Homo sapiens: one gene and its partner. The protein of the gene in region 2 purifies or fractionates together with the protein of the main gene of each other region. This does not show direct contact. Each region holds a gene or a part of one and is shown on either strand. Other genes may lie near its edges.

Region 1 (3,750 bases), on a different chromosome or scaffold from region 2:
GATTGATGTGGCAGTGTTGTCATCATCAGGGACCTGGCTTCGTCCATCTTGTGCTGTCATCCTCCACGGACATCTTCCACTTAGTAATTCTGTTGACTCCTGCTGTCATTTTCCACATTCCAACAAGCAAGAAAGGGAAAAGGGAAGGAGAAGGAAGAAGCCATGCCCACTCTCTTACGGGCATAGCTTACATCCCACAGGCCAAAATTCAGTCACATGGCCGCAGTTACCTGCAGGACAGGCTGGGAAAGATTCTTTTTCCGTGGCCATATATTCAGCTAAAACTCAGGGCTTAATTATTGAGGAAGGGGAGAGAAAACATTGAGTTATATTTGGCAGTCTTTGATTCACATAGCTAGGTCATACAGTTCTGTGAGTGAGGCTTAGCCAAGGTTTAAAAACCTGATTGTGATAATCTCACAGTGGCCACCGTCTCTCATGATAATCTTGTGATGGCTGCTCTGTCTGTAAGAACTAGTAAGTTAGGACTAGCCAAAGAAGATAAGATTTAGCCATGCATTTGATTCTGTGCTTTAAGAATGTCTATCCTTAGACTTGAATAAGTATATACTTTTGTGCATACTTACACAGTTAATTCTGCGTTGTTAATCTACGTCTAAGCTTTTGAGAATATACTGCTGTATTTTACTGCAAGATGAAGGGCTTGTGAAGTAATGTCTTTATAGTAGCAACTAAAATGACAAGTTGTTTCCGTCATTCGTTTTTATAAGAGCTAACATGGTAAAACAGATAGCCACGGGTGCGCATGGTTTATTATAATGCTGAGAGTTTCCAAGTGTTACATGTTTCTTCTTTGGCTTCCCAACTTACGCTGCCATTGGTGTCCACGCAGCTGTCTTGCTTTCACATTCCTGTGACCTCAGTTATTTGAGGAGGTGTTATAAAGAAGTTCTTGGAGTTGGACCATGGACCAAAGTCTGAAACATTATCATTTTATAGTACAACACACCTTTTCTCATGGTAGGTGTGGTCCAGGGAGAAGGTGCGCATGGTTTATTATAATGCTGAGAGTTTCCAAGTGTTACATGTTTCTTCTTTGGCTTCCTAACTTAGCTGCCATTGGTGTCCACGCAGCTGTCTTGCTTTCACATTCCTGTGACCTCAGTTACTTGAGGAGGTGTTATAAAGAAGTTCTTGGAGTTGGACCATGGACCAAAGTCTGAAACATTATCATTTTATAGTACAACACACCTTTTCTCATGGTAGGTGTGGTCCAGGGAGAAGGGACTCTCTCAGTTTGCTCACAAGGAGCAATATTTAATTAACTGCCATGTAGAGGGGAAATAGAATTAAAATTAAGTTCTTATTTCACATCAGAGGTTATAGATTAGATATTTATGCTCTTAGAGTATGATTCTAGAAAATCTTCTAGGGCAGAAAAACGTGCTGAGTACAGGATAACAGATGGCCCTAAAGTGAAATTTCATATGAATAGGTTGTGTTTTATTAATTTGCCACATAGTTTTGGTGCCTACTTTGTGAAATTCGTGGGGTGGTAAGCTCTAAGGGAAGGGCCTTTTTGATTCATCTCTGTTCATCGTCTTAGCACAGTCCTGGGTGGTTGCCAGTGCCCAGGTGCTTTGGGAGACTGTAGAAGTTGTAGTCCACACACACTCAAACCTCATATTTTATATTCAGTCTGTAACCTTTTAATATTTCTTGACATTGAAGGAAACGGTTAAATATGATTTTTGTGAAAACTTTAAAAGGTTCTTAGTCACTTTCGGGTTTACAGGAAGTTTGTAGAAAAGCCCTGTGCTCGTCTTCATATTATTATGTGAAAAGTATTAATCAACTAATTTAGAATGGCTTTGAGCCCAGGAACTGTGCCGTAGGAATCTGCAGATGTGATTATCTGCCCTTTTAAGACTATTGACTGTAAGAGCTGTGTGTGTGCACCATAAAGCAACAGCAGGCTGCCAGCTTTTCTTGCCTTCAGCCGGGAGCCCTCAGCTCTCCACTACCCAAGGGACCAAATATGTATTTGTCTGAATCGGTTGAAGCCCACACATCAGCCTAACTCTCTCAGCTAATTTACCTTTCCCCCACCTGCACTAGCCCTGTGCTAGCTAGTGGGATGCCTGCTTTGTTCCTAACTCCCTTACCTAATTTATCTTCCCCCTACCCCCGCATGAGCCCTGTGCTGGCTAGTGGGACACCTCCTTTGTCCTGTGTATGGACCTTGCTATCAGTTCTTGAAGATTCCCCACCTTGGCACTGTCACCTGGTCAGCACCACATCTTCTGTGGCATGATTCAGATAGTGTCTCCATAATGGTGTTTTCAGCCCTACAGCTGAGGCTCCTGTTACCTGTTCTGTACAGATCCTTTGGCACTTAGAGCATACTGTCTGGCCTTGCTGTGCAACTAGGCTGTGAGGCCGCCAGCCACCTGCCTGCACTACCATTGTACACAGGAGGTCTTTGGTAAGGGATGGCTGGCTGTGGATGGTGATGAGGCAGTACAGGAAAGATCCTTGGTGAGTGGAGATTATTATTATTATTATTTTGAGACAGAGTCTCTGTTGCCCAGGCTGGAGTGCAGTGGCACAATCTTGGCTCACTGCAAGCTCCGCCTCCCAGGTTCACACCATTCTCCTGCCTCAGCCTCCTGAGTAGCTGGGACTACAGGCGCCTGCCACCACGCCCGGCTAATTTTTTGTGTTTTTTAGTAAGAGACGGGGTTTCACCGTGTTAGCCAGGATGGTCTCGATCTCCTGACCTTGTGATCCGCCCACCTCGGCCTCCCAAAGTGCTGGGATTACAGGCATGAGCCATCGCACCTGGCCGAGTGGAGATTATTTTTGCTTACTTTGGCTTTGTGTGTTTTGCTATGGGGGAGTTAATGGTATTGGTTTCTTTGGAGAAATTCATGACCTAGGAGAGCTATGGAGGAAGGGCCACAGCTCTTTTGTCTCTCCCTGATTTCCAAAATACCACCTCACCATGGTACTGCCTTGCTTTAGAAACTTCAGTGGCTCCCCATTGCCTTCAGAATCACATCTGAATGGTGGAGCAGCCTTTACACTCTTATACCTTCTACCCTTGTCTCCCAGTGCTCTTTAAGCAGCCACTTTATGGTCCCGTTTCCCATGTATGTGGGAATTTTGTCCTTTGCTCTCCTTCTCCTCCTGTCTGCTCCCTGCTCCATCCTAAGCCCACTCCAGTTTCAGGGACCACAGAGAAGCAGTTACCAGCAGCATGGAGTTTGAGAAAGGCTTCATCACAACAAGGCTTGAGAGGCTGGAAGAATTCGCCTGGCAAAGGAAGGAAGGGATTTGCCGTATGAAAGGCACAGCATATGCAGATATACTGGAGTGAGAGGGCATGGCACGTTTTGGGAATGATCCTTTAGCACCTAGCCTACAGTCTGAACCAGCTGGGACCTTGGTACTCATTGCCTGCAAGCTGCCCCCTCTCTGCCCCCGAAAAGGGACCCCTTTCATAGCAACCTGGACGGGTGTGTAATTAGCCTGTAATGGCATCAGCGGGTTTGCCGTGTTATGAGTCTGCTCATTCTGCTGTTCTTCAGACTGAGCTTGGGAACTGGGCCTCGAGCCAGCCTGCTTGTGAGCAAGTTCTAGTTCCACCATTCTCAAGCCAGCTGACTTTGGTCAACCTACTTGACCACAGTGTCTCAGTCGCCTCACCCATAAAACCAGCTCACCTGCTCAGTGCTCAATAAGTGTTGTAATTGGCAGTGTTACTGTTTTCTATGGTTGTAGTTCAAG
Region 2 (3,750 bases):
GACTAAAAAGATGGCATTCCATAAATTGTATGTACCATTGTAATTAATGGTAAGGATCTTATTATTAAATACTGGACATTGCGCTAAGTGCTTCATAGCCATTATCTCATTTAATCTTTCCAACAGCCCTGTAAAATAAGCATTCCTAGCCCCCACTGTTAAGATGAGAGAAGCCTTATAGAGGTTTATTGACTTGCCTGAGATCACACAGCTAAGCGGTAGGTTGTGAACTGAGCTCAGCCTGTCTTCACAATGTTCTCAAATGCCCATGCATTAACTGCCCATGTTGGTACAAAGAGTCAACACCGGAGGTCAGATCTTTAATTGTACAGTTACTTTGCTGAATCATGTCAGACTTTCCTACATCAGTGGTCTTACTATGGTCTTACTATATTGGTAGGTTACAAAATGGCTTTAACTTGGAGGAAATGAAGATGAAATAGACTGTGGTTTTTCTCATTAAGATTCAGAAGGAAGCACTCATTCCTTGATTCTTTCTGTATTGTCTCAAAGAAAAAACAAAGGCAAAATGAACTTGGTCCTTCAGACCTTCCAAATCTGCAACCACTGCCCTCCATTTGCACCTGGTCAGCCAAATAAGCATGTGGAATGCAGGAAGGCCTTTCCCTGGGTCTAAATTCCTCCCTCTCGGCTATTCCTGTAATGCAAGTCCATTGCTTTTGATGCAAAAGCCTATCAGGTCCCGAAAACTTGCCCTTAAAGCCTATGGTTAAAGGTAGGAATAATTGAGTTTCTCATTACATTAATTTTATTTTTATTTTTTATTTGAGAAGGAGTCTGGCTCCGTCGCCCAGGCTGGAGTGCTGTGACAAAATCCCGGCTCACTGCAACTTCTGCCTTGTGAGTTCAAGCGATTCTCCTGCCTCAGCCTCCAGAGTAGCTGGGACTACAGACTCCTGCCACCACGCCCAACTAATCTTTTTGCGTTTTTTAGTAGAGACAGGGTTTCCTCATGTTGGCCAGGCTGGTCTCGAACTCCTGACCTCAAGTGATCCACACACCTCAGCGTCCCAAAGTGCCGGGATTACAGGCGTGAGCCACCACGCCCGGCGAGTCTCTCACTAGGTTTCTGTGCTATTACATCATGCACTTGAAAGTGTTGTTTAATGTGTTCAAGGAAAAATGATTGGTGAGGACCTGAAAAAATAGCTATTGATCTATTACATTAATTCTTATTCTAATGGAAATAATTCACTTTTTAAAATTTTCTTTTCACTGTAAGGTACATTTTCCCAAGAAAGTAATTTGCCCGGGCTGGAGGGCAGTGATCTCGAACTCCTGGGGCTCAGGTGATTCTCACACCTCAACCTCCCAGGTAGCTGGCATTACAAATGTGTGCCACCATGCCTGATGAATTTTTTTATTTTTTTGTAGAGATGGTGTTTCGCCATGTTGCCCGTGCTCTTCTCGAACTCCTGACCTCAAGGGATCCACCCACTTCGGCCTCCCACTGGGACTACAGGTGTGAGCCACCACATGCAGCCCCAAGGAAGTAATTCTTGATGAGTCTACAAAATCCTAATGGAGGAAAGCCCTATATTTTATCATCGAGTATCTATTTCCGCAATCTCCATAAATCCCACTGAGAAAACTACTTCCAAGCTACACTTGAGCTGCGCAGACACATGAGTATGAGTAGACACACTGGCTTGAATGGTGCTGTGGCACCACACACACACACACACGCAGTAACTTTCCTTTTTCTCCAATTTTTTTTTTGCCCTGAAAACTAAATTGAATCCATTTTCCAGAACATTTAGTGAATTTCAGAGTTCCAAATCAAAGAATTTTTCACAAAGACCCCAATCTTCTCAGAGTTTAAATTTAAAAAAAGAAAGCAGGCTAAACCTGTAGTTAAGTTTGACACACTCCAAAAAGGCAAATCACTAGGAAATGCAGCAGAAATTAAATAAATAGAAAGCCTAACATGAGGCACAAGAACAAGAGGCCACCTTATGCTGTGGCCAGCAGAGGCATTCAAACATTCCGTCAGCAGGATTCCAGCCAACCTCCGAAGCTCACTTTTATAAGCCAGCCCCAGGCATCCCAGAGCAAGATGTAGCTGTGTAGTCTCCTTCCATAGCTGCTCTAAGGGGGCTGGCAACATGGCTCAGCAGGCTTGCCCCAGAGCCATGGCAAAGAATGGACTTGTAATTTGCATCCTGGTGATCACCTTACTCCTGGACCAGACCACCAGCCACACATCCAGATTAAAAGCCAGGAAGCACAGCAAACGTCGAGTGAGAGGTAATGGGGCTTCTCAATCAAGCAAAATTCTAGGCTTAGACAGTGTGGGGAGGTGCTGGACAATGTTAATTTTCAAACTCCTCCAGGAGACTATCTTCGGTGATGGCACCATGCCATCATCCCTATATGGCATTTCAGGGGATTAAGTGAACTTGTAATGCTCTGGGATAGTTTATTTTAAAGAAACCAGGCTGCTGGGTTTTAAAAAAAAACAACAGGGAAAAAATTTGATAGTAAAAGAATTCTGTGTTGTATATTTTTTGTTAGGTGGGCTTAAATAGAATGTGCTTCAGAGGAAGCTCAAGTGGATTTCTGAAAATCTGGTGTTATTAATATGGGGCAAGAAGAATGTATTAACTGAGCACACTGTTTCACTAGTAGATATTGAGTAACTCAATTCAGTTATATTTTAAGATAACTATAATCTTATTCAATGTGTAGCAGAGGATAGAGATTTTGGTAATGGTGACTTCCTGTTTTGTCATTAGTTATCATTAGCTGTATTTCCATATCCTTGGCAGCATAAGGACAACCTATACCATATATTTAAACTTTTTCATGTCAGAGACATTGAATCTCTCCAACTTAAAAAAGTCAATATGCAAAGTCATCTAGTATTTGAAGGCATTGTGATGCAAAACTGAATCTCCCAGGAACCTCAAATTTTGAGTGACTTGAATTGGGTTAACAGGTTAAAGAAATTGAAAAGAACAATGATGATAGCGAGGTGTTTGCAATACGTTGAAACCTAAGCAAAAGAAAAAAACAAGACAGAGGGTCATGTTTTATCACATCCTCTGCATCATTTTCATTTCAGGATATTTCAGATTATGACTATTTCCTTATTTTCACTCCATTAGTAACAACACACACATACACAAATTTCAGCAAGGTTACAGTCTATTTCACATGACAGATGGCTGGTGGGTAAAAAGGGGTCTTGTGCTTTAAGGATTATAAAGTACCATTTTTTCAGGGACATTTATTTACAAAATTTAGGTCTGGTGCAAGGTTTCTTTTTTTTTTTTTTTTCTGAGACAGAGTCTCGCTCTGTCGCCCAGGCTGGAGGGCAGTGACACAATCTTGGCTCACTACAAGCTCCACCTCCTGGGTTCACGCCATTCTCCTGCCTCAGCCTCCCAAGTAGCTAGGACTACAGGCGCCTGCCACCACGCTCGACTAATTTTTTGTATTTTTAGTAGAGACGAGGTTTCGCCGTGTTAGCCAGGATGGTCTCGATCTCCTGACCTCGTGATTCGTCAGCCTCGGCCTCCCAAAGTGCTGGAATTACAGGCGTGAGCCACCGCGCCCGGCTAGTGCAAGGTTTCTTAAGTGGAATCTTTTTTCCTTAAGAAATACTGTACTTCTTTCGGTGAAAGATTAAAATATTTCTCATGAGTAGATGAAACATATTGCTGAAGATGGTATCGAAAGGAGAGGGGAGAGAGAAGATACTGGGTGACATGGTACATTTCTGTAGCC

Evidence for each region. Proteins that work in one complex are often made in the same cells at the same time.
Region 1: the proteins of CLEC3A (region 2) and ZZEF1 purify together in Homo sapiens (affinity purification with mass spectrometry; 2 studies listed by BioGRID and IntAct, with this or other methods). This does not show direct contact.

The regions. Positions count from the first base shown.
Region 1 is NC_000017.11:4,136,387-4,140,136, reverse strand, and holds part of ZZEF1 (zinc finger ZZ-type and EF-hand domain-containing protein 1), read left to right. Parts: intron 1-3,750. UniProt on the Homo sapiens protein: Histone H3 reader which may act as a transcriptional coactivator for KLF6 and KLF9 transcription factors.
Region 2 is NC_000016.10:78,020,474-78,024,223, forward strand, and holds the start of CLEC3A (C-type lectin domain family 3 member A precursor), read left to right. Parts: upstream 1-2,074; 5' UTR 2,075-2,153; coding exon 2,154-2,268; intron 2,269-3,750. UniProt on the Homo sapiens protein: Promotes cell adhesion to laminin-332 and fibronectin.